Regions from separate parts of the Homo sapiens genome. Here all the other regions are linked to region 5. Evidence: fine-mapped expression QTL. A gene starts in region 5. Each other region holds a variant in brackets. All regions are shown on one strand. Distances are between the middles of the regions. Region 1 overlaps MYO5A (myosin VA). Region 2 overlaps MYO5A (myosin VA). Region 3 overlaps MYO5A (myosin VA). Region 4 overlaps MYO5A (myosin VA). Region 5 holds the start of MYO5A (myosin VA).

The links. PIP is the estimated chance that this variant, and not a neighbour inherited with it, causes the effect.
Region 1: its variant is the best candidate, but not a certain one, in a credible set for the expression of MYO5A in caudate (GTEx, PIP 0.53).
Region 2: its variant is the best candidate, but not a certain one, in a credible set for the expression of MYO5A in lung (TOPMed, PIP 0.87).
Region 3: its variant is the best candidate, but not a certain one, in a credible set for the expression of MYO5A in tibial artery (GTEx, PIP 0.77).
Region 4: its variant is the best candidate, but not a certain one, in a credible set for the expression of MYO5A in monocytes after Pam3CSK4 (Quach 2016, PIP 0.90).

The regions. Positions count from the first base shown.
Region 1 is chr15:52,337,338-52,342,443 of GRCh38, reverse strand. MYO5A (myosin VA) reads left to right here. Exons shown (of 42, transcript NM_001382347.1): 32 at 2,050-2,248; 33 at 4,560-4,634. Among named protein-coding and RNA genes, the nearest start is that of MYO5C, 44 kb to the right of the region's middle. RefSeq lists an enhancer at 3,627-4,203. The variant C/T (reference allele first, on the strand shown) is at 2,650.
Region 2 is chr15:52,302,952-52,308,057 of GRCh38, reverse strand. MYO5A (myosin VA) reads left to right here. Exons shown (of 42, transcript NM_001382347.1): 42 at 1-775. It overlaps LOC105370819 (a long non-coding RNA gene), which reads right to left. Exons shown (of 4, transcript XR_932250.3): 4 at 3,558-3,603. Among named protein-coding and RNA genes, the nearest start is that of MYO5C, 9.7 kb to the right of the region's middle. The variant T/C (reference allele first, on the strand shown) is at 2,417.
Region 3 is chr15:52,432,698-52,437,803 of GRCh38, reverse strand. It overlaps MYO5A (myosin VA), which reads left to right. Exons shown (of 42, transcript NM_001382347.1): 2 at 4,519-4,629. Among named protein-coding and RNA genes, the nearest start is that of MYO5A, 94 kb to the left of the region's middle. The variant C/T (reference allele first, on the strand shown) is at 2,929.
Region 4 is chr15:52,442,544-52,447,649 of GRCh38, reverse strand. The region is part of intron 1 of MYO5A (myosin VA); the gene reads left to right. Among named protein-coding and RNA genes, the nearest start is that of MYO5A, 84 kb to the left of the region's middle. The variant T/G (reference allele first, on the strand shown) is at 3,103.
Region 5 is chr15:52,525,748-52,530,853 of GRCh38, reverse strand. MYO5A (myosin VA) reads left to right here and starts at 1,974. Exons shown (of 42, transcript NM_001382347.1): 1 at 1,974-2,074. The coding sequence starts at 2,048. RefSeq lists a silencer at 1,445-2,324.

The sequences.
Region 1 (5,106 bases), 190 kb after region 5:
ACAGTGGCTTCTCATATCCTATAGATAGATCTACAGGATATATGTGTCTATGGCAATGTGGCTACATTTTTCTTTTCTTTTTTTTGACACAGGGTCTTGCTCTGTCACCCAGGCTTGAGTGCAGTAGCATGATCACGGCTTAATTCAGCCTTGACCTCCTGGGCTCAAACGATCCTCCTGCCTCAGCCTCCTGAGTAACTGGGACTGTCACAAGCATGTGCCACCACACTCAGCTAATTTTTTTATTTTTTGTAGAGACAGGGTTTCACTTGGTTGCCCAGGCTGGTGTCAAACTCCTGGGCTCAAACAATCCTGCCTCGGCCTCCCAAAGTGTTGGGATTACAGATTTGAGGTACTGCGCCCAGCCTACCTTCTTATATATTATTATCATGCTGTCTAAAAGCAAGATGAAATGCATGATTTGGCACTCTGTGTGGTTATTATGAAATTCACATTTGTGAAACAGCAAATCAGGAGAGTTTTCTGCATTGCTATAGCTCAGAATAATTACCCAAATTCAACCCGTTAAATATGTTCAGAGGAGAGAAAATAAAATTGAAACAGCAGCACCTTTCTAACACAGACATTCATCTGCTCTAGTGATATTTGTCTTTAAAATCTCATTAAAATTCTATTTTAGTGATTAAATTTTTAAAACACTCAAATGTTTGTTCAAGGGGCTTCTGCTTATTCTGCTTTGTTCTCATCATTAACGCTTGTCATTAACTTTGGGGTGTTATTGCTGCAGATCTTTTTGAAATGTTTTAATCACTAAATATTTTTAGTCCACTGTTAACAGTTTGCTTGCAATGGCATCATTAAGTTTTACCCAGCAGTTGGCAACCAAGGGACTGGAATAAAAGAATGTCTTTTCTTTCTTCACATTAGTTAGTTCTTAACCATAACTTTGCATTTGGAAGAGAGTGACTGTAGAAGCAGGGGTGCGTGGCAAAGGGAGGATGCTCTGACTCTGGTGTTCTCACTGCCAATGCCTGGTCTGCTCTGTGGGCACAGCTGGCTGTATGTTTGCTTGGAAAAGCAATAACCACTTTTTTGGTCCTATTAATATTTGTGTTCTAAAACCACATCTTGTTAGGATTCTGTTTCTGATATGTAAGTTTATGCGGAGAGAGAAGATGACAGATCTAAAATATATATAGGAAATTTCAGAACTATTTGTGTGGATTCGGGTAAATCTGTATATATAAGGCTGGAGTGGTGTTCCAGCCTTTCTGTCTTTCAGAATAGGAGTAGAATATAATTCCCTCTGCCTGGAATTAGTAACTGTAGTTCTGAAGGCACATTTAGTTAATTTGGAAGTTTATAATGTTGGCCTTTATAGTGCAGAGTTGTTTTGTGGCAAAGGTGTACTGTCTTTGCCAATTTAAATGCTAATTTATAAATGCAAATGCAAGGCAAATTAAAGCTGTTTTTTTCAATTGATTTTTTTTTTTACATCCTCATTTCCTATGACCCTCTTTTTTTTTTTTTGAGACGAAGTTTTGCTCTTGTTTGTTGCCCAGGCTGGAGTGCAATGGTGCAATCTCAGCTCACTGCAACCTTTGCCTCCTGGGTTCAACCAGTTCTCCTGCCTCAGCCTCCTGAGTAGCTGGGACAAAAGGCATGCCCCAACACGCCTGACTAATTTTTTGTATTTTTAGTAGAGATGGGGTTTCGCTATGTTGGCCAGGCTGGTCTTAAACTCCTCATCTCAGGTGATCCGCCTGCCTCAGCCTCCCAAAGTGCTGAGATTACAGGCGTGAGCCACCACACCCGGCCTCCTATGAACCTTTCAAGAGAACTAAAACTCTCCTGTTTCTTAGGGCCTCTGAGAACTTTATATAATGCAGAAAGACACAAATGTGAGAGCACCCGTTTCTATTTCTGCTTCTTGTTTTAGTTTCTTGACTTTAATCAAGTCAGAAGATAACACAGATACTAAAGAATATCTGCTTTTCCTACTCTTGCAAGTGAACACGATGCCTTACACCCGTTAGGCAGCAACTCGGGGTGTCGTCTCCCCTTCCGACCCATGTGTCCTCTCCGCAGGCTCCTGGAATCCCAGCTGCAGTCACAGAAGAGGAGCCATGAGAATGAGGCCGAGGCCCTCCGTGGGGAGATCCAGAGCCTGAAGGAGGAGAACAACCGACAGCAGCAGCTGCTGGCCCAGAACCTGCAGCTGCCCCCAGAGGCCCGCATTGAGGCCAGCCTGCAGCACGAGATCACCCGGCTGACCAACGAAAACTTGGTAAGGAGAGCTGCCGGGTCCACATGCTTCTTAACCTAGCCTGCCCGACAGTCTAGTTTCTTTTTGATCAAACACGGGTTTTTCTTGCTGGGAAAAACTCACCCCTCTGTACTTGTTACCCCTCTTACTCCAGCAGAGACAGAGTAAGGAAAATACAAATATTTTGGTAGGAAGGAAGAAGGCACAGGTTCTCTTTATCACGGAGGGCTGCGTGCTCTTAGACCTGCCCTGGAGGCAGACAACCACCTGGGTGCAGGCTGGGCTTTTGATGGCAGGTGATCTGCTTCCTCCATTTCAGCTGCAGATCCTCTGCCATCCTAGGTTTATTATGTGATTGTCACAACTGAGACTGGGGACAGGCTTCCTTTACCTTTGGTCCCCAAGCAGCCACTGAGGCCATC[C/T]CAGGCTCCACCTCTAGCAGACAAGTAGGGTTAGAGTTGAGGTTGAGAAAGGCGGTTGGCAAAACTAAGCCGGGGTTTTTGGTTGATGTTGGATGGAGCTCCCAGGTCAGGGAGGTGTGTGTTAGGATTCAGGTTTACATATTTTCTGTTCTTTTAAACAGAACTTGTATAACAAGTGAGGAAATTGTCTTTTTCCTTGTCAGATTCTAAACCCTGGCATGGAGTCTGACTGTTTTCTTTTCTTTTTTTTGCCTTGTTCCTTTTTTTTTTTCTTTTGCCAAAAAAATTTTCTAAAATATTTCTCAGTCACATAATAACTTTTATTACTGATTTACAGTTTTTTGACAAATATATTTACTATATTAAAAATCCTTAAAAAGTGATAATTTCATATTTCTATATAAAGTCTATATTGTAGTGCTAGCCCGATTTTGAGAAAAATTGTTTAGGATTGGTGGTGATTTGTGTCTTTTTTAAATTAACATTTTTAATGACCTATAATAAAATAGTATGAATTTTCTCTGAAGATTTAACAATCTGAATTATCCCTCCATTACTCCATTTGTGATAATTTACATTACAAACAGTTTTCTAGTGTCATTTATTCAACCATCTTTTATATGAATTAGAAGCAAAACGCAAAGGTATTCTTTTTCACAGTCTGTCTGTATGAGGCTCCACCATGGGAATGAGGGAGGAGGGTGGGGGCAGTGTGTGGGCTCTTTCCAAAGTGATTGACATCTCACTAATTTGTGGGGAAAATTTTCTGAATCATGAAATATTTTTTGAAGTGTTATTTTACAAAGCTCAAGTATACTGTTGCTTAAATTAAACTAACAATGCTTTGATGACTAAGTATTACCAAATATACTGAATAATATAATAAGTTGATTGATTGGCATACAAGTTCTGTGCTTTAAATTATTGTTTTAAAATACAAGGTGAAATCGTGAAATAAAGATGCTTCTGGGTGGCAGATTTCCAGGGTTTTTTCACTAAGTTGGTCAGACATTTCTCTTGCAACCTTGTTTGCAATATTAATTTTTTTGGCAATTTTTCATAGCTAATACAAAAAATAGACTAAGCCCCTATATTCTAAGCTAATAGAGCCCAGTTAATGAATTTGAGTTTGGGGAAAACCTTTTGTAGGTCAGCTGCTTCTCCTGCCATCACACTGACTACTAATTCAGGAGGATGGATTCAAACATAAGTACAGGAAATGATAGACTTTTTCAAAATCATTGTTTTCTCAATCTTAATTGTGCATTTCTATAAGAAACACTTGAGTAGGATATTAAAGCCCAGCAGGAGACCTGGGCTTAGTGCTCTTGAAACTCTACCTTGCCCACCTACCTACCACCAACACAAAACACAAAAATGATTTTTCTACCTCATCTAGTGAACAGGCTTCACAGGCCTCCCCCGTGCTGTCTTTCAGCGAAGGAAGATGCACAGCTTCCCACCAGCCTCTCCAGCTTCACAAGCTAACATTGCTATTATTCTCACTTTTATTATATTTACCTCCCCTATTCTTGCCACTGCTGCTGGCGGCAAAAAAAAAAAAAAAAAAGTGCAGCAAGTTGTGAGCATCATGTGTTGGGGAGGCTGGGAGTAAAAAGGCAGGAGGTTGGAGGAGGGAAATGACAGCCTTATCTGGGCCTGCTAAGTGATGGCATCCTGGCCACAGCCTCTTTCCTTTGTTCACACAAGAAACATCTGTACATATGTAATTAGAATAATCTATACTAGAAAGATAAAAGGGTAATGGAAGGTGACAAATCAGAGCCTTTCAAGTATATATAGTTTCACTATTTGTATTTTAAAATATTTTAAAATTGATTTTGCTGAAAGATAGCATTTCCCTCAAACACACAGACAAAAACAAATATCCATTGTGCCTGTTTTTTCAGTATTTTGAGGAATTATATGCAGATGACCCTAAGAAGTATCAATCATATCGGATTTCCCTTTACAAACGGATGATTGTATGTAAAACCATAGTGCTTTTCTGCTGTCTTCCCTTGCTACTTATAGCCCTCTGTAACTGAAGAGCACACTGCTGCCTGCCCCCTCCCAGGAAGTCTCTTCAAAATTTTCACGAAACCTGTTTCTCCCCACAGCTGTCTTTTAGCCAGTGGTGTCACCTCTGTCAGTGTCCTGAGTCCATTGTCACGTTTGGTTTGTTATTAACACTAGGCTTACAGTGTGATGGAAGCAAAATGTGATTTGAAAGGTCACGTAAAATCCAAGAAGTACAACTTAACACTTTGAAGAGATAGCAACTGTTCCCTTTAATGGTTGGCCTAGTAGCTAAATCTACTCCTGTCTAAACTGGAAAATGAATATTTGTATTTGGAATGCCTTTCTTCTCCATAACCTGAATAACAGACCACACACATTGCTGACTCATAGCCCTTCTAAGCTGTTACTGAGCCTACTGTTGTCCACTTTCTTTTT
Region 2 (5,106 bases), 220 kb after region 5:
ATGCATTTTTCAGAGTCAGCAGTTTCAAATCTTATTGTTATCATGTTATAAAATTTTAGCCCACATTTCAGGCTCCGTAAATCATTTGAGCCATTATTTTTTCCCAACAAATGGTGAATTTTTTCTTTAAATGTGGATATATATGTTGTAATTTATGATTCCTGGTTATGTATTTTTGTGGGATCCTGCAGTAAAATTGACTTTTTTGTGTCTTTGGGAGATTTAAATTGCGCTAACAGTGTTGCGCAAAAATGAGTTCATGCCATTTAACATATTGTATTTTAATTATTAACTGTATTAATTTACTATGAAATGGACATCCTTTTAACTAAAATGGAATTGAACATTGCAGTTTTCAAATATTTTTCCTTGTTGGGTCTGGAAAAGGAATTCTACTTTGATCTGCATAGAAAATTTTGATACAATTTTTTGAAAGTTCTTAGGTGAAACATTTACCCATTAAAAAGGAAGCAGAAATACTGAGACATGAAAGGCATTATCAACTAACTCTAGACTCTAGAACCCATTCTAGCATATCTCACGTGCAATTTTTAAAAATAAGTTAATAATTCATCTCATATCAACAAAAGCCTTTGAAACATGGGTTTTCACTAGATATCACCTAGTGCTAAGATAAAAACCAAAACAATATCAGAATTACATTTATGCTCTAAATTTGTAGTTGTCCATTGTTGTGCTTAGTAAATGTGTGTCATTAATGCTGTATTCTCCTAGCTATTATGGAAACTTGTTTAAATAAAGATATGGATATAAAGAGTTTTTGTCAGTGTCTTATAAGCAAATCCACTGCACATTTTAAAACAACAAAACAAGTTGTTTTCCTGAAGACTAGTGAATGTAAATATAATCCCTCCCCATGAGAATATTCTAAGAAGTCTTGGAAATTTAAAAGTTGACGAGTTCCCCTCCTATACTGGACACCCTAGTAATATATATGATAAAGAAGAGAACTGCCAAACACTTAAGCAAACAGAAACAGCTGAAGAAGAGGTAGTGTCTTTTCTTCAAGGGAAAGTCATGCCTAAATATATTGGAATTCTCTGACAGAGAAATAGACATAACCAAGGGAAATTTGATATGCATAATCTACTTAGATTTTCAAAAGATTGAGGGTGTCATTTGTGTCAAAAGTTCTACTTTTAATATAGTGGGACAGTAGACATTTTTTGGCATAAGACATAGATCAAAGAAGTATGCAGATGTGCTTTTTTGGGTAAGGAAACAGAGCAGTTATTCAGATCTGTGGTGGAATTAGTCTCATCTTTATTTATGATAAGGAGAAATTAATATCATCATGTACCACATAACATTTTGGGTCAACAATGCACCGCATATATGACAGTGGTCCCATAAGTTTATAATACTGTATTTTTACTGTTACCTTCTCTATGTTTAGAGAAACAGGTACTTACCATTGCCTGCAATTTGCAGTACAGTAATGTGCTATACAGGTTTATAGCCTGGGAGCAATAAGCTATTCCATATAGCCAGGGTGTATAGTAGGCTATACCATCTAGGTTTGTGTAAGAACACTCTGATATTTGCACAATGATGAAATTGCCTGATGATGCATTTCTCAGGACATATCCCCTTTGTTAGTAATGCATGACTATGACTGTACATGGTTTTCATGTAGATTATACACTTCCTACTTCCATGACACATTCATTCAACTCATTTATTAAGTACTTTTCTGGGCACCGCAACAGGCCCTTGAAATATAGCATCTTCCAAATTAAATTCAATCACTGGCCCCATGAACTACAGCAGAACACCAATATGTTACAAGTAATAAAATGTCAAAATTTGCAAACAGTTTCTTTTTTTCTTTTTTATTTTTGAGACAAAGTCTCGCTCTGTCGCCAGGCTGGAGTGGAGTGGCGTGATCTCAGCTCACTGCAACCTCCGCCTCCTGGGTTCAAGTGATTCTGCCACAGCCTCCCGAGTAGCTGCTACAGGCACCCGCCACCACGCCCAGCTAATTTTTGTATTTTTAATAGAGACGGGGTTTCACCATATTGGCCAGGATGGTCCCGATCTCTTGACCTCGTGATCCGCCCGCCTTGGCCCCCCAAAGTGCTGGGATTACAGGTGTGAGCCACCGTGCTCAGCCAACAGTTTCTTTTTCTAAATTAATTGGAACCAAGGCAAGATTATTTCCCAATAATAAAATCACGCTCATCCAGTTGCATTTTGGTATGATCATTAGGATTCTTTCTGGGGCATATGACAAAAATCAAACTCAAACTGACCCAACCAAGAAGGAAATGTATTACCTAACACAATTAAAGTTCAGAGATATATCCAGGTGCCCAAACATTGACATCAGGGATCTCCTTTTCTTTCCTTACTTTTGGCTTCATTCTTAGTCATGTTCTCCCTCAAGTGACAAAGA[T/C]GGCCCTCAGTAGTGTTTGGCTTCATTCTATGGCTCTGCCTTCAGTAATTCTCAGTAAGGCATTTCAGGATGGAGTCTCAGTGGCTTAAGTCCTACTTCCATCCTCAGAATAATCACTGTGTCCAGATGAGTGCTCTGACTGTCCTAGCCTGACATACCCCCCACTGAAACTAAAAATTGGGTAATTCACAGAAAACATAGGATTGATTAGGTGGTAGTGGGAGTTCACCAGAGGAAAGACAGAGTATAGTTCACAGAGGAAATGAAAGCAATGCATGTCTACAGTAATGCATTCTCCTGAATGGGAAAGAAAGGGACACGAATTGTGTGCAGCACTGGGAGTGTGCCATCCATGTGAAAGTGTGGAGCTGCTGGGTGGGTTTCCTGGGTCTTAGCAGTCAGCATAAGTGCACAAAGAAGTAAGCAAAGTGTTACACAACAAGAATTTTGAAATCACATTTACCACCCCGGAAAGGGACCTGGGAAGACATGTGATTTGTTCACATTGATCACCTTGCTACTGAAACCAAAATATGATGGACATTATTCAAAAGGAGAGAAATAAAACCTGCCATACAGACCTCGTTAGCACCATGTTGGCCAGCTATGGGCAGTTCTGGTCATTGGGTTTCAAACAAAACACAAGGGAATATAAGAGGTTCAGAAGAGAATAAGAGATAACTGAAGGAAAAGGATACTACTCATAAGAATGGTTTGAAAGTCCTGAGACAATTGGGCCTAGAGAAATGAATGCCAAGAAGGTAAGAATGTGGGCAAGTGCTAAAAAATTATGCTTGGTTGGGCCAGGTGCAGTGGTTCACACCTGTAATCCCAGCACTTTGGGAGGCCGAGGCGGGCAGATCATGAGGTCAGGAGATCAAAACCATCCTGGCTAACATGGTGAAACCCCGTCTCTACTAAATAATACAAAAAATTAGCCGGGCGTGGTGGCGGGCGCCTGTAGTCCCAGCTACTCAGGAGGCTGAGGCAGGAGAATGGCATGAACCTGGGAGGCGGAGCTTGCAGTGAGCCGAGATTGCGCCACTGCACTCCAGCCTGGGCAACAGAGTGAGACTCCATCTCAAAATAAAAGAAAAAAAAATTATGCTTGGCACAGATAAGGAAAACATGAACTACTTACCAAAACTTAAATATGGTAAACAGACATTTTGAAACTTCAGCAGTTACTGGAAAAGAAAGAAAATACTAGTTTATGTTGTCAACCATGTATATCTGAAGCTCATTTCCTAAGAGTCTATATTATCAAGAAAGCTAAATGAATTTGAAGAGAGTTTGGTCAATGCTACTTGTGACCAAAAAAAATTTCTACTGAGAAGATCTGGGTTGTATCAAATCTTCAGGTTATAATCTAGGAAGACAAATGGTTTCTTTTCACATGTACACCCATGGTCTGCGAAAAATAGGTCTCCGGGCTGAATGGCCTGTGTCTAGGATGACCCTAGCTAGGATGGTGATTACTGTGCAAAAGAATGGGGCTCCTTTTGGAGGGAAGTAAGAAGCTGTTAAAAACAACCTCATGAAAACAGAAGGGAGGGAGGAAAATACAGGTAGGAATGGGGTTGGTCAACAGAAGTGAGATGGGCAAAGAAAGACAGGCCAAAAGCCCATGGAAAACCATTCTTGAGTTGACATTAAATACAACAGGAGAAATATTTCTCACATTTCAAAAGTAGCTTTTAGGAATTCCACTTCTGACATGATAGCATGAGGAGCTTTGCAGACAACTCCCAAGGGAAACCAGTGAAACCAGTGAGAATTATTTTAAAAACAAACCAAACCCCCAATTCTTTAAAGTCTCTAGAAATGGTCCTAAGGGCATACACCAAATGAAGAAGTGCTTATTCAAGAAAACATACTAAAGCTTGATAAAGAGAATGAGCTTGTTGTATCTGAACCAAGATTCCTCCCTCCTTCCATCTTCCAGGTCAATGAGACAAAAACTCCACTCTAGACTGGTATAGCCAAGAACTCAGGGCTTCCTCTCTGCCAGCTCACAGTTGGAGGGCTGTCTTCCTGGGAGGGGCAGGATGTCAGCACTTCTCATCCTGCTCCCAGCCACCTCTTGCTTAAGCTAAGTTTCAAATAAATGCAGTCAACAGGTGGGGGGGGTCCCTTCTACCCAGCCCCTACTCATGGCTCACAGGCTCTACCTTGGGGACATCACTGCTGAAAATACTGGGACCCCAGTGCATCTTGTTCAGGCTTTTAAGGTGGTGCTCTCATCCTGGGAAAGGCCAACCAAAAAGACCTAAGGCCACTATCCCCCATCCACCGAGCATTTGGCTCCCATCACTCAAAGAGATGCAAGCCATTGTCCTCATCCCCAGCTCCAGAACAATGGCTCAGAGATTTTCACCAGGAGCAGAAGCAGGCTGTAAAACAGAAAGCTCCAAATTACTTCCTAAAGGAACTGACTTCATTTGCAAAAGAGTGTGGAGAAGTTCAAGCCTAAGGGCGTTTCAAAAACAGTGAAGGTTGCAGTGACTGGGGATTGGGAGGGGATTGGTAGATTCATTAGAGTTATCGGCTGAACTTTAGGCTATAACTTTCCTGGAGAGAACTGGGAGAAGAGACAGCCAGGAGGAGTCCTTGCAGGATCAGAACAAGTCTCAAACATTGACCTCAAGAACTATCCTTTCAAAGGAGCCCAAAATTGATCAGATACTGTC
Region 3 (5,106 bases), 93 kb after region 5:
TGTGGAAATCTGAGCTGGAGCTCCCTACTAACACAGAACATGAAGGCACTTTCTAGATTTAAAGTCTCCTCATGTTTAGGCACTGGTCAGTCATGCTTCTACAAACTCACTTGGACACATTTTCCTTTTTTGTGTTTTCATCAGTCAAGGTGATAGGTCATTTCATGATTCTGAATATCTCTCTCTCTTTTTTTTTTTTTTTTTTTTTTGAGATGGAGTCTTGCTCTGTTGCCCAGGCTGGAGTGCAGTGACTTGATCTTAGCTCACTGCAACCTCCACCTCCTGGGCTCAAGTAATCCTCCCACCTCAGCCTCCTGAGTAGCTGGGGTTACAGGCACGAACCACCATGCCTGGCTAATTTTTGTATTTTTAGTAGAGGCGGGGTTTCACCATGTTGGTCAGGCTGGTCTCTAACTCCTGAGCTCAAGTGATCCGCCTGCCTAAGCCTCCCAAAGAGCTGGGATTACAGGCATGAGCCACTGTGCCCAGCCCGACTCTTAATCTCTTTATATTTATATATCTTTTCTGGAACCAGTAGTGCCTTCCAGAGAAAGCTACAAAAGTGCTGTCTTTGTAAAGTAAGCTTCAGAGTGGGAGCAGTTAGTACATAGAAATATTTATTACATGAGTAAGGCTTTAGTGATATGTACAGATATTACTCAGTTTATGGACTGTGTCCCTGGGAAAAAAGTTGTAAAACAAATTTCAGTAACATGTTTGATATATGACATTAGAAATCACTTCCTATGGGAAAAACAGTAACAACCCCACCTTGTACTTATATATTGGTTTATACTTTTCATGAAGTTTCTATGTGCGTAAGCCTTTGCAATAAACTAGAAGACTATTGTTGTCATCCTCATTTTATTGTTGCCTGAAATAAAGGCCAAGGCCCATCTGGTGGCCCTGGGAGTAGAACCCATAGTCTAATTCCATACTCTTTCCTCTGCAAACTGTTTAGATTAAAAGTTTGTATGTGTTGGTAATAATAAGAGAAAATTAAAGCAATTGAGCGAGCTTTTAATCATGCTACTTATATTCAATTTAAAGAGATGCCTTTTATTCTGATCTTCTTTCGATAAGTTCTTACTAAGCACCAGCTCTGTGTCAGGTACTGTTCTAAGTACTGCCTGCTGTGTTGAACAACACAGACACAGAACTTATGTTCTAATGAAGGAAGAGAGATAGTAAATAAGTAAACAAACAAGAACATAACAGCAGGTGATTTCAGATAGTGAATAAGAGTGCTGAAGAATGTAAAATAGAGAATGGTAATAGTAGTTTGGATTGATTTCCGCTAGAAAGGTCTGGGAAGGCCTCTCTGAAGAGGTTTACATTTGAGCTATCATATAAGTGAGAAGGAGGCAGACATAAGCAGATCTGGGAGAAGTACATTATAGAGGGCTTAACAAGAGCCAGGGTCTAGAGACAGGAGCAAACAAAACTGTGTTCCTGAAGAACTAAAATAAGATCTGCATAGTGCCGGCTTAGAGGTTGGCAGGGGAAGGAAAGGACAGGTCATGAAGGCCCTTGTAGAACATGGTAAGGGATTTGTATGTTAACTATGATGGCCAGGCCAGGTGTGGTGGCTCACGCCGTAATCCCAGCACTTTGGGAGGCCAAGGTGGGAGGATCACTCTCTGAGGCTAGGAGTTTGAGACCAGCCTGGCCAACATGGCGAAACCCTGTCTCTACTAAAAATACAACAACAACAAAAAAGTAGCCAGGTGTGGTGGCAGGCACCTGTAATCCCAGCTACTTGGGAGGCTGAGGCAGGAGAATCGCTTGAACCCCAGAAGCGGAGGCTGCAATGAGCCGAGATCATGCCATTGCACTCCAACCTGGGCAACAAGAGGAAAACTCTGTGTCAGAAAAACAGAAAACAAAAAAACTGTGATGGCTATTTGTCCTACTGTTTTCTTGTTAAAATGTCCTTTATTTTGTAAAACGATGGTGATATTAGACAGTAAATTGGTATTTATGTTGCCTCTGCTGAGTGTGAGGGCTTTAGCCTCTACTTGTCTGTAAGTGCTGCCAATAATTAATGGTTTTATAATCTTACTTGTCAAGACTAAAAGTTAGTTAATAACCTTATATCAGTCCCCAAACTTTAAGTAAAAAATTTTACCAGCCATGAAATCTAGTAGTTTGGAAACTATGGCAATATACCACAGCAGCTTCCCAATAGGAAGGCTTGAAAATATTTGTCAGTAAAGAGGTTAACATAGGCTGGGCATGGTGGCTCATGCCTGTAATCCCAGCACCTTGAGAGGCCAAGGCGGGTGGATCATGAGGTCAGGAGATCGAGACCATCCTGGCTAACACGGTGAAACCCTGTCTCTACTAAAAATAGAAAAAAATTAGCTGGGTGTGGTGGCATGTGCCTATAGTCCCAGCTGCTCGGGAGGCCGAGGCAGGAGAATCACTTGAACCCAGGAGGCGGAGGTTGCAGTGAGCCGAGATCGTGCCACTGCACTCCAGCCTGGGTGACAGAGTGACAGAGTGAGACTCCGTCTCAAAAAAAAAAAAAAAAAAAAAGAGGTTAACGTAATATCCAGGACAGTGGCATGGCATGCTGAAATGTTTTTCTTAATTTAAATTATCTTGAATCTCAGATCTACCTGTACTTTCGTTCACCCACTTTCTTTTCGCTTTCTCCTATCTGTAAGTTCATCACTGGGTCATATAAATTTCTCTTGTACTTGGGAATGACCTTGTTACAAGCTTCCAGAACTTTGTGCCCAGTACTTAGAATAGTCATTACATTATCACAGTTCTTTGGGAAGTTGCCCCATATTTAACATACTCAAATCCAAATGCTCCTTCTCAAAGCTCCAAGTAAATTAGTACCCTGATTATTGTTAAAAATGAAATCTAGAGGTGAATTTACATGAAATGAGGATACAGATACAGGCCAGAGACCGGGTT[C/T]AGTCTGGCCCATGCCAGCCATGATTGATTGTGTCATGTCTTTCCCTTGCTGGCTGAATCTAGGATTCCTGTTTTCATATGTGATTTGTTCATGAAAATGGGCATTTAGGTTTAGTGTATGTGTGTTTTAAAGGGAAATTTCTTCCCAGAGAGTCCAAGCACATAAAAACACTTCTTCAATGTGGTATTCGAAAGATTTGTGCATGTTAGTATATTTTGTTCTTTTTCTTCAAAATTGACCACATAATCTTCTGGCTTATGTCCAGGGAGTATCTAGTTGAGGCAAAATATTTGCTGCTTTGGGAATCCCTGATGATTACCATGCCTTTTTCATGATGTTGAGGCTACAGGAGCTAAGCTTATTAGTGACTGGCTGTGCCATTTTTACCATTTCCCACTCATCTTTATAAAATAATGAAGGCAAAATGCTGAACAACCGTGTTTCTTCAGTTTTAAAAAATCTGTTATTTTTATTCTCCTCTTCTCCCTACTGTGATGGCTCCTGAAGGATGTCTGAGAAATCACTAAGGCTTTGCAGAGCACAGGATGCAAACCACCATAAAAAAATCCAAATTGTGGGCCGGGCACGGTGGCTCATGACTGTAATCCCAGCACTTTGGGAGGCTGAGGCAGGTGGGTCACGAGGTCAGGGGTTCGAGACCAGCCTGGCCAACATGGTGAAACCCCGTCTCTACTAAAAATACAAAAATTAGCTGGGCACAGTGGCACATGCCTGTAGTCCCAGCTACTCGTGAGGCTGAGGCAGGAGAATCACTTGAACCCGGGAGGCAGAGGTGGCAGTGAGCCGAAATCGTGCCACTGCACTCCAGCCTGGGCAACAGAGCGAGACTGTATCTCAAAAAAAAAAAAAAAAAAGAAAAAGAAAGAACAAAAAAATCCAAATTGTAAACCCAGCCATAAAAAGATGGCAGTGCTGTTGAAACTGGCAGAACCACAACACCATAGCTTCAAAAATAGATCTTATGTGTACATTTTAACCTAAAATTATACTTTCAGGTGGCATTTACTGTGTAAAGCAAAGTCAAGCTTTGATCATAACTGTTTTTTCAGAGCACACTTTTTATATAATTTGGGAATGGTGGTGCTATGAGAGCTAAAATATTTTTTGTTTACTAATTTAAAAAGTAAATTTCAGCTGGACGTGGTGGCTCACACCTGTAATCCCAGCACTTTGGGAGGCTGAGGCGGGTGGATCACCTGAGGTCAGGAGTTTGGAGACCAGCTTGGCCAATATGGCGAAACTCCATCTTTATTAAAAACAAAAAAATTAGCTGAGTGTGGTGGCAGGCGCCTGTAATTCCAGCTACTCAGGAGGCTGAGGCAGGAGAATTGCTTGAACCCAGGAGGCAGAGGTTGCTGTGAGCTGAGATCATGCCACTGTACTCCAGCCTGGGCAACAAGAGCTTAACTCTGTCTCAAAAAAAAAAAAAAAAAAAAAAAAGTGAATTTCATGTTGGCCAAGATTTCTTTTTTCATAAATTGTTTAATTATAAATAGTTATCATATGTTTATATATGATTGTAAAATAATTGATTTGCTAGTTTAAATTTTTTTCTTTTTGTCTTCTAGTTTGCCAGGGTTTGGATACCTGATCCAGAGGAAGTCTGGAAGTCAGCAGAGCTGCTCAAAGATTATAAGCCAGGAGATAAAGTCCTCCTGCTTCACCTCGAGGAAGGAAAGGTGAGATCTCACTTTCATTTGTTGTCATTGGCATAAAGTGAAGGGAGTTCAAAAGTGTAAATTTACTGTGAAGTAAACTCCCAATGGAAGTTAAATTTTGAACTTACCTAGAATTTTTACTTACTAAATTGGTAAAAATGGCAAACTCAGTTTTCTATCCTGATAGTGTTTTTAATGGCATAGATTAGTGAAAATAGCAGATACTTTAAAAAGCTTCTATTTTGGCCTGTGAATTTATTATGATTATCAGGTTTAGATTCACATCTAATCCTAAAACTCTTGCATTTAACTGGTGTGCTATGGGGAGTGCTTGTAGTGTTTTTAAAAAGAGGCATGGTGCCAGGTCTTAGAGGAGACTCATTGGTGGCAGCATGGAGAGCAAAACTGAGGGGAAGATACTAGTTGGGAGGAAGGCGGGGAAGAATTAGGCCAATTAGGAGGGCTTTTAATACCAAACTAGGGAATTAACTTATTTAA
Region 4 (5,106 bases), 83 kb after region 5:
CATTCAATAGGTCTCTAGGAAGTTCCAAACTTTCCCTCATCTTCCTGTCTTCTTCTGAGCCCTCCAAACTGTTTGAACCTCTGCCCATTACCCAGGTCTAAAGCCACTTCCACATTTTCAGGTATCTTTATAGCAATGCCCCACACCTCATTACCAGTTTTCTGTATTAGTTTGTTCTTGCATTGCTATAAAGAAATACCTGGGACTGGGAATTTATAAGGAAAAGAGGTTTAATTGGCTCATGGTTCTGCAGGATGTACAGAAACCATGGCTGGGGAGGCCTCAGGAAGCTTCCACTCATGGTGGAAGGCAAAAGGGGAGTGGGCACATCACATGGCAAGGATTGGGGAGAGAGAAAGCAAGAGAGAGAGCGAGAGTGTGAGTGAGTGATAACGATCTTGCGAGAACTCACTATCACGAAGACAGCACCAAGCCATGAGGGAGCCGCCCCCATGATCCAAACACCTTCCACCAGGCCCTACCTCCAGCATTAGGGATTATAATTTAAGATAAGATTGGGTGAGGACCAATATCCAAACCATATCATTCCTCCACTGACCCCTTCCAAATCTCATGTCCTTCTCACATTGCAAAATACAATCACACCTTCCCGACAGTCCCCCAAAGCCTTGACTCATTCTACTATTAACTCAGAAGTCCAAATCCAAAGTCTTATCTGAGACTTTTCTCCTTCCACCTCTGAGCCCATAAAATCAAAACAAGTTGACTACTGCCAAGATACCGTGGGGTATGGACATTTCTCCCATTCCAAAAGGGAGAAATTGGCCAAAAGAAAGGGGCTACAGACAAGTTTGAAACCTAGCAGGGCAATCATTAAATCTTAAAGATCCAAGATAATCCTGTTTGACTACACGTCCCATCCAGGGCACACTGATAGAAAGAGTGGGTTCCCAAGGCCTTGGGCAGCTCTTTGTCTGTGGCTTTGTAGGGTTCAGCCCCTAGGGCTGTTCTTATGGGTTGGAGTTGAATGCCTGTGGCTTTTCTAGGCTGAAGGTGCAAGGTGCCAGTGGATTTACGATTCTGGGATCTGGAGGATGGTGGCCCCCTTCTCACAGCTCCACTAGGCAATGCCCCCTTGCAACTCTGTATAGGGCCTCCAACCCCACATTTTCCTTTGGCACTGCCCTAGTAGAGGTTCTCTATGAGGGCTTTGCCCCTGCAGGAGGCTTTTGCCTCGGCACCCAGGCTTTCTCATACATCCTCTGAAATCTAAGTGGAGGCTGCCAAACGTTCTTCACTTTTTATTCTGTACACCTACAGGCTTAACACCACATGGAATCTGCTAAGCTTTATGGCTTGCATTCTTCAAAGTGGCAGCTTGAGCTGTACCCCGGCTTTTTTGACCCTTGGCTGGAGCTGGAGCTGGAGCAGCCAGCACGCAGGAAGCAGAGCTCTGAGGCTGTGCAGGGTAGTGGGGCCCTAGGCCTGGCCCTCTACACCATAATGTCCTCCTAGGCCTCTGGGCCTGTGGTGGGAGGGGCTGCTGGGAAGGTCTCCGAAATGCCTTCCAGGCCTTTTCCCCATTGACTTGGCTGTTAGCACTTGTCTCTCTTTTAGTTATGCAAATTTCTCTAGCAAATGGTTGCTGCTCCACAGCCTGCTTGGATTTCTCTCTTGCAAAAGCTATCTCTGCCACATGGCCAGCCTGCAAATTTTCCAAACTTTTATGCTCTGCTTCCTGCTTAAATATATATTCCAACTTTAAGTCGCTTCTTTGCTCCTGTACCTGAGTGTAGGCTGTTCGAAGCAGTCGGGCCACATCTTGAATGCTTTTCTGCCTTGAAATTTCTTCTGCCAGATACCTTAAATCATCACTCTGAAGTTCAGTTCCACAGATCCCCTAGGGCGGGGGCCACATTGTAGCCAAGTTCTTTGGTGAGGCGTAACACACGTGACCTTTGCTCCAGTTCCACTAAGTTCCACATTTCCGTCTGAGACCTTCTCAGCCTGGCCTTCACTGTCTGGATCACTATCAGCATTTTGGTCACAACCATTTAACCAGTCTCTAAGAATTCCAAACTTTCTTTCTTCTTCCTGTCTTCTTCTGAGCCTTCCATATGCTTCCAACCTCTGCTGTTACCTAGTTCCAAAGTTGCTTCTACATTTTCAGTTATCTGTATGTGAGGCAATCCCTCACTCCTAGTACCAATTTTTTGTGTTAGTTCATTCTTGCATTGCTATAAAGAAAGACCTGAGACTGGGTAAGTTATAAGAAAAGGGGTTTAATTGGCTTACGGTTCTGCAGGCTGTACATGAAGCATGGCGGCATCTGCTTCTAGGGAGGCCTCAGGGAGCTTTCACGGTGGAAAGCAAGGCAGGAGCAGACACATCACATGGCAAAAAGCAGGAGCAAGAGACAGAGAAGGTGGGCGGAGGTTGCAACACATTTTAAAATGCCCAGATCTCACGAGAACTCACTATCACAAAGGCAGTAGCAAGCCATGAGGGATCTGCCCACATGATTCAAATACCTCCCACCAGGCCTCACCTCCAGCATTGGGGATTACATTTCAACATGGGATTTGGGCAGGGACAAATATCCAAACTGTGTCATTTCCCAAGTTAGCAAAAGACCTAGAAGTGTCGATTCCCAAAGCTGGGGAGCAACACAAAGGGAGCTGCCTGTTATAAGTGGGAGGGAAATACATACCGGCACCTGTCTATTATTTCCCAGGTACTGTTTTGGCACCTTATCCATATTGTCTCATATAATGTATGTGTTGTTTGATGTTTAATGCCATGATTCCTTAAATCTTACCATGTTAAGACATTTTAGTTAAAATTTAAAAAATTACCCATGACTTCTTTCATCACTACATCATTTATCAGGGTGATAGATAGTCTATGTGGGAGGAAGACCCCTATATAAAGAGGCCTGTACATATTTAATATGACTTCCATTTAATACTTTTTTCTACATTGAGAACAAGTGTTGAAAATGATAGGAAAGTGTGAGTTGTTTTGCTTAGTTGAGCAACTTTGGTCCCAATCAGGAGAAAGTGATTCAATGAGATTGTGTTTTTCTTATTCTTCCTTATACAACCTAATCATTTTGAAATCAGAGATCTTTCTCGGTTTGAA[T/G]TCTGCTTCTGCCATTTATTAGCTGAGTGACTTTGGGGCAAGTTATCTAACTTCTCTCAAGTGTTTTGTTGAATAAGGAACTTCTTTAATAATAATTATAAAGCATATTATGAGGTTAAGTAAAGTTAGGACTTTTCTTTATCCTGATCAAAGTCCTGTGATGAATACAACCTATATAGTTCGCTTCCCTGTTGGTGATTCTGTTTTACCTTTGATTATTTTAATTATTTAGAATTTTGTGGTTTAAAATACCACCAGCTAATTATAGATGGAAATACTAATTTTTCTTGATATGCATATTAACACTGTTCTTAAGAAGTGAGATCTAGTTCTGAAAATAATCTTTACACGAATGTTAAATAACTACAGTGTCTAAAAATACTCATTCCAAAGCTCTGTCATCTCACATAAAATTTTAGAAAAATAAGAATATTTAATTTTTGCTACTTAATGGTGACAAAGCATATCCATCAATTTGCAAGTTCTTGTTTTCTTCCTAAATTTAAAATGATAATTTCAGTGTCTGGAGGGAGCTGACTTGAACTTGATTTTCCTTTTTTTTTTGGAGACAGAGTCTTCCTCTGTTGCCCAGGCTGGAGTGTAGTGGCACAATCTCGGCTCACTGCAACCTCCGCCTCTCAGGTTCAAGCAATTCTTGTGCCTCAGCCTCCCAAGTAGCTGGGACTGTGCAGGTGCGTGTCACCACTCCCAGTTAATTTTTTGTATTTTAGTAGAGACAGGGTTTCACCATGTTGCCCAAGCTGGTCTTGAACTCCTGAGCTCAGACAATCCACCCGCCTCGGCCTCCCAAAGTGTGATTTACTTTTTTTTTTTTTTTTTGAGATGGAGTCTTGCCCTGTCGCCCAGGCTAAAGTGCAGTGGCCCAGTCTCAGCTCACTGCAACCTCTGCTTCCCTGGTTCAAACAGTTCTGCCTCAGCCTCCCGAGTAGCTAGGATTACAGGCACCCACCACCATGCCCAGCTAATTTTTGTGTTTTTAGTAGAGACGGGGTTTCTCCATGTTGGCCAGGCTGGTCTCGAACTCCTAACCTCGTGATCTACCCGCCTCAGCCTCCCAAAGTGAAGCGTGATTTACTTTTAAACCAGGTACATTTCACAGTATATGCAAGGTAACTTGCAGAGTCAGCAAAAAAATAAAAATTTTAAGTCAACCCTATGATTTTGTTCATTTATAGAAGTTCATGAACCTGAGCTCATTCATTAAAATTTTAGTCTTCAGCATCCTCAGATTGTTTTTTTGCTGTTATTGACTAACCTCATTTTTGGTAGAGCCTTCATTCTCTTGTCAGAGCTCATTGGAACACTGCAGGATGGATGGCAAGCTGATTGGCATGGCTTTGACATGTTGTCTTAGATGAGACATTCTTAAGTTTCACCAGATGACATGGGCCAGTTTAATAGCTGTTTTCATTATGATACCAAGAACAATTTGGGGGTGGAGGAGGGGAATTCCTTCATAATAAAATCTACTGTTTTGGCCAGGCACGGTGGCTCACGCCTGTAATCCCAGCACTTTGGGAGGCCAAGGCAGGCGGATCACAAGGTCAGGAGATCGAGACCGTCCTGGCTAACACGGTGAAACCCTTTCTTTACTAAAAATTAGCCAGGATTGGTGGCATGCACTTGTATTGTAGTCCCAGCTACTTGGGAGGCTGAGGGAAGAGAATCGCTCGAACCTGGGAGGTGGAGGTTGCAGTGAGCCGAGATCGTGCCACTGCACTCCAGCCTGGGCAACAGAGCAAGACTCTATCTCAAAAAAAAAAAAAAAGAAAAAAACTGTTTTAACAATGGGTGGGCATAGTGGAGTAGAAAGAATGTATGGCTCCTAGAGTAGACTTGGAACTTCATCTCTATCATGTTTAAGGTTTAAGCCTCAATAGCTGTTAAAATGGGTTAGTACTGGGGTTAGTTATTGTGATTATTTGAATGAAATTATACATGTAAAATACCTGGGCCTCTACTGGCACACAAAAGGTGCTCAAT
Region 5 (5,106 bases):
CTCCTCATCTCCATTACCTTCCTCTTAGTATGGCCCCAAATATTTGAGTGGTTGAATGCATGCGTTCTGGACTTATAAGAGGATAATTCCCCTTTCTGTTTTCTCCTCATCACTTGAAAAAAATAGAAAACGAAGAAAGCATTCACACCTACAAGAACTCGTCCAGTTTTTTAGTTTTTTTTTTTTTCTCAGTATACTCAGCATTTCTCGACAGTCCTGAGAGGTAGGTATTATTTGAAGGTGAGAAAACAGGCAGAGTGGTTACCACCTTGCACACGACATGAAGAAACTGCAAGGCGTAGGAGCCAGGCCTCCTAAATCTCAGTCCAGTGCTCCTTCCGTTCCGCTGGTCGTCACTGCACACGTTTTCTCTTTTTATGTCTGGGTGAAGAAAGAGTGGGTCCCAGAAACATGAAAGCGATTTGGTTTTGCAATGGGAAGGAACAGAGACAAATCTGTAGGACTTTCGACTCAGTAGACATTCCCTCTAGCATTTCTGAGGGGATTGTGGGCGAAGAGGAGAGGTCTGAGTTCCACGGAGTAAGGACTGGCCCCGTTCCTTTCAGTGAATGGTCTTTCTCCAAATACACACGCACACAACACACACAACCGGGGGCCTCAGCCATGAGAGTTGTTCGTGATAGAAATGGTCTACCAGATTACCATGACAGGCACTGGGGACCAGTTGTAGTTCAAAGAAACGAGAGATGAGGGCACTACAAAGAGGCAGGGATTAAACAAACAAAAACAGCAACAACAACAACGACAACAATAAAGAATGAAGATTATTCAACCAGAAACGACAATGAGGGTGGGGAGAAGATAGAGGATGAAGACAGCGCAGGGTTGGGAGTAGAAAGACCACATTCTTGTGCTGGATGTTCAAGGATCACCGTGAGGAGAGTGAGGGCGGCTTTGCCCTTTTGATGTTGAGTTAAACTGTAATACAGATTTTCCATGTAAGTACTCCGTCATTTTCAGGTGGCAACCGGATAAACTTCAGGTGCCACCATGGAGCCGACAATCACCAGCAGCGAACAGGACGGGAAGAAGGCTGGGACAGAAGGGTAGTTGCATCTCCGCAAACGCACAGGTCTAGGAAAGAGGCACCTGGGCTGTCCCCGGGCTATCTCGTTTCAAAGTCACTTAAGTTTCTGTAGCTTAGAAGCGGCCCTTGCCCTCTGGTATCGGGAGACGACTTTGCTGCAGACATCGAGGTGCTCGGAATGACCTTGGTGATCAACCTTAACCTGAAATTCCCGGTCCTGCATTGCCCATCTCCCGGGTCACTGCTGCTGACAAGGCTCTTCTACAGTCCTGGGTTATTCTACAGTCTTTCAAGAGGGCTTCCCCTAAATCCTCTCCCTAGGAATGCTTGGAAGGACGGGAGGAGCAGCCTGGAGGCTCCCATCGTTTATTCGGACACAGTAACAGCCCGTGCCATGGCTGCGCTACCGCGGGAGCTAGGCTCCGCAGCAGAGGGCCCCGGGCTCGCTTCGGGGTGGGGGCGCCCGGGGTGTGCCGCGCCCTCGGGGCTCACGTCCCGGGCGGGTTTCCGGGCCTCGGCAGGGCGCGAGGCGGCGGCGGGGCCGGCTGGCAGGCTGATGATGATGATGCTCTGTGCTCGTAGCCGATGGGAGGCAGCGTGAGCCCGAGAGAGCCCAGAGCAGCCGCGGTGGCAGCGCTGGAGCGCAGCCTCCTCCCGCTCCCATAATGCACAGGGCGGCGGCGGTGGCGGCGGCGGCAGCGGAGGCAGCATCGCGGGCCGCCGAAGTGGCTGCGGCGGCGGCGGCGACCCCTAGGACCCCGGGCAGGTGGAGCGCTCGCGGCTGCTCGCGGCGAGCCCGGGAGTGATGGCGAGGCCCCTGCGGGCGGCCAGCGCCTGAGGCGCCCCGCCCCGCCCCGCCCCGCGCGGCCCTCCCCGCCCGGCCCTGCCCTGCCCTGCTCCCTGCCGGCGGCTGCGGGCGCTTCCTAGTCCGCTCGGGCGGCCGCCCAGGCGAGGTGCGGCCTCCGCACAGGCGGGGGGCGTAGGCGCGCGGGGCCCGCCATGGCTGCGTCGGAGCTCTACACAAAGGTAAGGCACCCCGCGGCCGGCGTCGAGGACTGGGGCTGTGCGGCCCTCGCCGCCAGCTGTCAGGCTGGGGAGGGGGCGGGAGCGCCGGGCCCAGGCGAGCCCCACCAGCGCCATCCCCTTCAGCGCCTCAGAACCCTCGGCCCTACCAGCCGGTCGCCCGCTGCGGCACCTTCCTCTTTCGGGCGAGATGGTGAAGGCGGCGGAAGGTGGCCCGCCTCGGGGGTCTCCCAGGCCCCTGCCGCGCTGCTCGAGCTGGGGGCAGAGCGGGCTTCGGAGTGGAAAGGGGGCCCATGTGGATTTAGCAGGGCGGGCGTGCCTCCCCTCCTGCTTGGCTTTGGAAAATTCCCGGCGGGTGGGAGATGCTTGCTCCAGTAGATCGGATGGGTTCTCTCGTGGGGACACGCGCTTAAAATAACGTCTTGTGTTGGTATGCAGTGCCGCTTCTACCGCCAGCTAGCCTTTCTGTGAGGTTATTTTGAATCCTGCAAACGGTGGCCGTATCACCTTTAGCTCCCCAGTTTAGCTGCGCTGGGGGTGGCGAGCCCCGGGGAAAGATGCTGCCGGATGAACGCGAGCTGATTCACCGGCTGGGAGGGTCGGTACTCATTTATCGCTGGGAGTTTGCAACCTGCGTGTAATCCCGCAGAGCCTTGTTAGGCTCCATGTCTTTACCATCCTCTGGGGCAAGCCTTTCCCTTCTGGGTTTGGTTTAAGGGAAGTGGCAGTCTTTTCTTAGACTGACATCAATATACTCAGGGTCTGGCGATCTCTGAATGACATATTATGGAGAACTGTCACTTGAGTGCTGCGCAGATTTGTGATGACCTTTGTGAATATATGTAATCATGGCATTTTATACTGTACACTCATGTGTAGGTAGATATTTTGCCAGATATTGATTACTTCTACATGCAGTTAATAGAGTTGCCTTTTCACATTAGCTTTTGCAACAGAACTTTCATTTAGGGTCCTGTAATCACTGGAATCATTGTTTCCAAATGTCACTGAAGTCCAGGGCCCAAGTTGCAGTGTGTTTTGTAGAGGAAAGAAGACTGGGCATCAAGAGACCTGGATTCAAGCCGGGACTTACTAACTGTGACCTTGGACAAGTCACTTAACATCTCTGGTTCGATTTCCTAATGAGTAAATGCAGTTAATTATACTTGCCTTGCATCCCTTACAAGCTGTTGTGAGAATCAAACTTAATAATCGTTGTGAAAGCTTTTTGTAACCTATGAATTTCTCTGCAAATATGAGATATATGATTAATTTCTTCAACCATGAAATGAGCTTGCATGAAACATTGTCTGAGACCTCTTTCTTTCTAGTTTTAGATTTAACGACTGTACAGTTGGAACTTCTCTCTCAACCTGGTAATTTCTTTAGGCATTGTAGATCTCTAACATATGAACGAATGCAATTGGAAACTGATTAAAAGTAACTTAAACACTTAATATGGTGCTTGCTATGTGCCAGGTACTGTTTTAAGCGTTTTAAAAATATGAACTCATAATCCTCATAAGGAACTTATGAGGTCGATATTAAGAAATATCAAAATCATTTTCACATGAAGAGATAATCAGTCTGTAAACATTCCTTGGTTACTTTGTGTAGCCCATCCCCTCCACTTCTACATCAAGTTTGTCCAACCCGCAGCCCATGGGCCGCATGTGGGCCCAGGACGGCTTTGAATGTGCCCCAACACAAATTCATAAACTTTCTTAAAACATGGGTTGTTGTGTTTTTTTTGCAATTTTTTTTTTAGCTCATCATTTATCATTAGTGTATTTTATGTGTGGCCAAAGAAAATTCTTCTTCCAGTGTGGCCCAGGGAAGCCAAAAGATTGGACACCCTCCGTTCTATATGGTGAGCAGTCATCTTTGAGTCACCTAATAGTAGGCTGCTTAACTAGAGACTGAGTGGATAATAAATTGTTGTTGGATTTCGAATGCTTTTTTCCCCCAGGATAATTTGGGAGAAAAAATTGAAAAGATGTTGTGATTTGTAAATGGTAAAGTTTTGGGCTTCTGTCACAGCTTTATCACAATCTATTTTAAAATTTACCTTTTAACAGCCTGAGGAACATAATGAGACCTGGTCTCTACAAAAAAATTAAAAAGTTAGGCTGGGCACGGTAGCTCACGCCTGTAATCCCAACACGTTGCCGAGGTGGGTGAATCACCTGAGGTCAGGAGTTCGAGACCATCTTGACCAACATGGCAAAACCCCGTCTCTACTAAAAATAGAAAATTAGCTGGGCGTGGTGGCGCATGCCTGTAATCCCAGCTACTCAGGAGGCTGAGGCAGGAGAATCACTTGAACCTGGAAGGCGGAGGTTGCAGTGAACCAAGATCGCGAGCCTGGGCAACAAGAGCGAAACTCTGTCTCAAAAAATAAATAAATAAATAAATAAAAATTAGCTGGGCGAGTTAGTCACGCCTGCGGTCCCAGCTACTCGAGAGCTGAGGCAGGATGATCAGCTGAGGCAGGAAGATTGCTTGAGCCTGGGAGGTTGAGGCTGCAGTGAGCCATGACTGTGCCACTGCACTCCATCCTGGGCAAAACAGCAAGACCGTGTGTTGAAAAAAAATTTTTTTTAACCTCTTTGTCATTATAAAGACAGACTGGCTTAGAGATCAAGACTGAAGTTGGGGCTTACACTGCCTTCTTCTAAATATACTTATGCCTAATTAATAGTCTGGTTACTTGGTTATTTGTTGGCAAATTCTTTTTGTGAATGGGCCTTAGCTTAATGGCAAGCAGAAATACTTATCAGGCATCCTGTGTGCCAGGTACTTTGCTTAATGTTTAGAGGATTTAACAATGAACAAGATACAGTCCTTTCCCTCAACACGCTCATAGTCTGCTTCTTACATTCTTGACCCACTTTGAATCTATAGGGGCATAAATAACCTGCTGTTACCTCAACAGCAGGCAGACAGCTGGTATGATATTTATTAGTAGAAGTTAGGGAATGGGTTGGGACATGGGGAAGGTTGGGCTGATTCCAGAGATAAAAACTACTATTGTA